Linked DNA regions of Homo sapiens: region 1 is linked to region 2. Evidence: fine-mapped expression QTL. Tissue or cell type: whole blood. Region 2 holds a variant in brackets; the other region holds the start of a gene. All regions are shown on one strand. Distances are between the middles of the regions.

Region 1 (2,619 bases), 170 kb after region 2:
AGCGCCCCCCAACCCGGCAGAGAAAGGCCCGGTCTCCTAGGAAACGCAGTCACCGCCAAAGGGCAGAGGCCTCGCTGCCCAGCCTGGAATCGCTGGTGACTCACTCTCCCTCCTTCCCAGGAACCACGTCCTAAGTCCCACTGGTGAATGGTCCCTCTCCACATGGAGTTGCCACTGCGCGCGGTGAGGGGCTGCTGAGCTGGCTGGAAGACCGCACCTCCTCGGCGCTGGGTGGACCCGGCTGCCACCCGCTCTGCCTCCCCCGACCTCTTCTAAGCTGCTCCCGGTAAGGATTCCGCGACCCCCGGAGAACAGGACGGAAGCCTCGATTCTCTCAAGTCTTAGCCAAGTTCCCTCTTAAGAGGCCAAGAAAAGCAGCTTCGTTCGGCTGGGCAGGCATTTTCCTGCCTGGCCCTGCGGCCGCACGCGTGCCTCCGCCGCGACAAAGGCCACACTCAGCGCCCGAAGGAGGGGTGGGGGTGTTGGGAAAGCGATGGGGGCCAGGACTGGGGCCAAGTGGCCCTGGGGATCCTCGAGGCGGCTCGACCCGGGAGCCAGGACTGGCGCCAAGTGGCCCGGGTCCGGGTCCGGGAAGAGGCGGAGGCCGGCGAGGGGGCGGTGCCCGGGGCCAACCCAGCTCCCTCCGGCCCCGAGGGCTCCCGCCCCGCGCCCCTCCCGGGCCCTCCAGCCGCGCCCCGGGCCGGCGCAGCGACCGCGCCCGCTCTTCCACCGGCGTCCGGCCAGGAGGCGCGAGGCCCAAGGATGCGACCCACGACGCGCACACCCGGCTCGGCAGGCTCCCTGGGAAATGAGGGGCCACTCGCAGGGCCCCGCAGAGCGAGCGCAGCGCCGGAGCCTCCCCCATCCCAGGCCGCGCAGACCGCGGAACCGGCGCACCAGAGCAGTGCCCGCGGGCGGCGGCGGCGCGACCCAGGCTGAGGGGACTTTGGCCAACTTCGCGCCTCCTGAGGTCGCGTCTCGGAGGCCCGGGGCGCACCCTCCAGCCGCCCGCCCGCGTCCCGGAGCCCGGCCGCCCCAGCCAGGGCGCCTGGGCCGCCGCCGCTGCGACCTCCGCGTTCAGTCCGCGCGTCGGGCAGCGCGAACGCCGCCTCCCCGGGGCCCTCCCGCCCGCCGGGCGCTCACCTGGGACATCTGCGGCCGGAAGTTGATGTCCTTGAGGTCGATGGAGCCGGGGGAGAGGTTGTGCAGCAGCTGGCACAGAAGGACCCCGTCGCGCAGCGCCTGCGCCAGGTCGAAGACCACGGCCGAGGGCCACACCACCCGGTGGTTGGGCGGCAGGACCTTGCAATCGATGAGCCAGCGGCCGCACTGCCGCCACTGCTCCATGGCGCCCGCGGGCCCGACCGGCTCAGGGCAGTGCTCGAGCCAAAGTGCAGCGGCCGCGGGGCATCCCGCCCGCGCGCGCGCGGGGCTCAGGGCCGGGGCGGGGCTTCGCGCGGGCTGCCCCAGGTCCCCCGCTGCGCCGCCGTGCGTCCCCTCCTCTTCCTCCTCCTACTCCTCGGGCTCCTCTCGGGCCGCCGCTCCCGCCCACGTGCGGCCGCGGGGCGGGCAACGGGCAGCGCGCCGGATCTCCCCGCTTCACACACGCAAGTGCCTGCGGGCCCCGGGCCGGGCTCCACGCAGCCAGTCGCCGCAGCGCTCCCCAATCCGCGCCGCCGGGCGCCGCATTCTGCGCTCGGGGCGCCCCGCGGCCGCCGCGGCTCCTGCCCCGCCCGAGACAAAGGCCCGGCGGGGTCGCTCGCTCCGCGCGTCCCGGGCCTGGGCCGCCCGCGTCGCCGCCGCTTTGTTCGCCCCACCCGCAGTCCCCACGCCCGGCGCTGCGACTCGACGACTCGGCGGCTCGGCGGCTCCACGGCTCCGGGGCGCTGGGGGCGCAGGGGGCGCGGCCACGGCCGGGCGGGGCAGGGGCGGGGCCGGAGCACTCGCCTGGCACCTCCCCGTGTCCCAAGCGCCGCCCCCGCCCCCCCACTTCCTGCCCCGCTACCGCCCGCGAAAGTTGCGGTGGGCGGGGGTTGCGGCGCAGGCCCAGGTCCGGCCGACTTTCTCCAAGGGCGCTCGGACTTTGGGGAGCCCTTCTCCCTGGGGGAGCGACCTCGCCCGTGGAGTGATGGCCGGGCGTCCCCCCGGGTGCCTTTGGTCCTCCGTGGAGGTCAGGAGGTGGTCCCTGTCGCGCTGGGCGCCCTCGCATGGCCGTTCGGTAACGACAGACTCGGGAGAGGGCACCGGGCTGGGCCGAAGCTTACTGAGCCCCCTTGGCCCATCAAGCCGCCCCGGCGGGATACCCGAGGCTGAGGCTGAAGGCACACGGGCCCAGGACTCCCAGAGCCCTCTTCCTGTCCTCCGCCCTGGCCGGGGGCCCATAGGAAGACCCCCGACCCTGCATAAAGGCCAGGATTCCCCAGCTTTTGGCCAAAGTCCTGGCCACTCGCAGCTGCCCAGCGGGCAGTTCCTGGCGTCCAGGGCGGAATGCGTGACATGAGTGAGGGCAGGAAGGTGCTCTCCGGCCCAGGGTCGCAGCCGGCCCCGGTGCTGATCCGCCCTGATCTCCCTTCTAGGCCACACCCTGGGTGGTGGGGGCGCGGTCTGTCCAGCTGGCAA
Region 2 (2,500 bases):
CATTTAGCACAGGGGCCGGTCTCAACACATAGTGTGGTCAGCATTAAAAATGACAGATTTTTTAAAACCTAGGAGACTAAAAAGTTGGATGGGGGTTGGTGCTGCGTTAGTTCCTGCTCAGCTGTGTTGCTTTTGTGGGTTTCAGGGATCATTCTTCTCTGTCCAGTGGTCCATGAGGAGGCCCGAGATGGCCAGGCAGGAATGTGGAAGCCCAGACGTGAATGGGCCTCCACGGCCAGACCTGGGCCCCAGCCCAGCTCCCTCCACCCCAGGCCAGTGACCACCCCTCCTTCCTTCCTGCCCCGTCTCATCCTTTCACTCCTGCTGTTTTCTGGGAGTCAGCTGCGCTGACAGATGCTAAATCCCGACCATTATTTTTGTCCTCACAATAGCTTGAAATCTTCCAGGAGGGGCCCCGAGCACGGCTGTAGCTCTCCAGGGACGGCAAAACCTGCCACCTTCACCTTCTGCCCGAGACCCTGAGGCCCCAGCCCAACAACCTCGCCCACCTGCCCCGATTCTGTTACAGAAAGGCAGCTGCTCAGAGGCCATTGCCCCCGCCGCCCACAGAAAATCAAAAGAAAACCAACAAACTCTGCTTTCTGCCCCTGGTGAGCCTGTGTGTTTACGGCGGACATAAAATAGTGTTGCTGACAGGCTGGGATGCGCCGCACTGGCCCCGGGCTGTCTGATGCTGCCAAGCAGGGTACCAAGCTGCCATTAGTGTGTTACTAGGAAACCGAGTCGGATGTTTCCTGACCTCCGTCCACACCTCAGGGTGCTTCATCCCCAGGGGACTGGGGTGGGGGCAGCAGAGAGAAGGCGCATCGAGCCTCTGAAGAAGCCGGCTGGGAACTGGATGGTGTGCATGTGGGGAAGGACGGACGGAGAGATAGACAGACAGACAGACAAGAACCGCTTTACACATCAGGGAGCTTGTTCTCACACGCCCTGGCAGACCCTCACCACGACCCATGAGGGAGGGAGGCCTTGCTTTTTCTACAGGTGGGGAAACCAGGGCTCAGAGAGGGCATGAGAGTCACCCAGCTCGCCAAGCCACATAGGCGGGTACCTGCACAGGCCCCAGCTACCAGATTCCCGGAAGGAGACCCGTCCACCGGACTGTCCCTCCTGGCCGTAACTCCCTCTTTTTGGGGGCTTCTTTCTAAGCAGTAAAAGAGCCTCCCACCATCTAAAAATATTCAGGAACCAAAAAAGAACAGCCCC[T/TG]GGGCCAGGTCACAAGGACTAGGCCCAGGGGAATGTCCCGGGCCACAGCACAGGGTTTCATTTCCCCCTCTGCTATGTGAGGCATGCTGTGTGACCTCCGGCAAGTCACCTACCCTCTCTGAGCCTTAATTTGTGCAACTGCAAAATGGGGGCTGGAGCACCCACCTTGCAGAGTTGTGAGGGCTGAGATGAAGCGGCAAAGCCCAGGGCCTGGCTCTCAGGGGACAGGAGCAGGGATTGTCGAACAGCGTATGGACCTATGGCTCAGATCCTCCAGTATGGGAATCGTGAATGCTCTCGGGACCTCATTATCCCCAGCCCTTCCTCCTACCACAGTGAACCAGGCCCAGGCCTAGTTAGGTGTCCTCTCTGTGCTCTGCTCCTTTATGAATGACCCTTATGGAGCGTTTATCTCAGCAGTGAGAAACAGAAGCAGGAAGACAAGGGAAAGTTGGTGGCAGAGACTGTCCTGCTGTCCTTTCTAAGCATCTGGTGAAGGTGAACTTCAATTCAGCCTGGTAGGGTTGGGGGCTGCCTCTTAGAGAAGGTGACCTGTGGGTTGGGTTTTGTAGAATGAATAGGAGTTGGGCAATCGATATAGGAGATACTACGTACGTGATGGGACTTCTACAATAAAACCCAGCATGTGACGCTTGTTCATTTTAGAGCAATATTTCTTAAGTGCCACTGTGTGTCAGTCAGATCTACGCTGAATACAAGGGAAATAACGTCAAAAGGGAGAAGTCTTCCTCTTCCTGGAGTTCCAGAACAGCACGAGGAGGGCGATTTAGAGGGGGAGGGACCTTCATCAGACACAGCACAGCCCTCTCATTCGGGCCGAAGCCCAGCTGCCTACTCCTTCCTGGAAAATGGCAAGATGAATGCGTATGTCTTTAAAGCTGCCCTTCTGCGCCGGTCCCCTCCCTCTGCAGAGACTGCATTAAATGAGACCAGAGAGTTGCTGTGACCGAATCAGTCCTGAAAGCACTCGAGTTTAACGAGGTATTAAAAATGAAAACCCCTGGAAGTCCCAGGCCATACCTGCTCACACACACACGGGAATGCGGAGCGGGCAGGGTGGTCACGCGCACCTGCTCTGCGTGCGTCAGAGGGTTCCCCTGCGATCTCCCACTGAGAAGGAACAAACGGCCTCTCCCTCAGTGGTGGGGGTGGGGGAGCAGGGTTTCGAGGTCACTGAAGCCCCCAGCCACGTGGCAGCAGGGCCTCTGGAGACAGCTGGGGCCCACTGTGGTGCCAGAGTACCAAGGGGCCC

The links. PIP is the estimated chance that this variant, and not a neighbour inherited with it, causes the effect.
Region 1: it holds the start of VAV2, and the variant in region 2 is fine-mapped to the expression of VAV2 in whole blood (TOPMed, PIP above 0.99).

The regions. Positions count from the first base shown.
Region 1 is chr9:133,990,932-133,993,550 of GRCh38, forward strand. It overlaps VAV2 (vav guanine nucleotide exchange factor 2), which reads right to left and starts at 1,393. Exons shown (of 30, transcript NM_001134398.2): 1 at 1,144-1,393. The coding sequence starts at 1,347. RefSeq lists enhancers at 1-435, 436-1,163, 1,892-2,619, 2,516-2,619 and silencers at 546-985, 1,026-1,115, 1,386-1,535, 1,596-1,695, 1,796-2,105.
Region 2 is chr9:133,821,591-133,824,090 of GRCh38, forward strand. All of the region lies in intron 4 of VAV2 (vav guanine nucleotide exchange factor 2), which reads right to left. Among named protein-coding and RNA genes, the nearest start is that of SARDH, 84 kb to the left of the region's middle. RefSeq lists enhancers at 1,134-1,183, 1,524-1,613. The variant T/TG (reference allele first, on the strand shown) is at 1,228.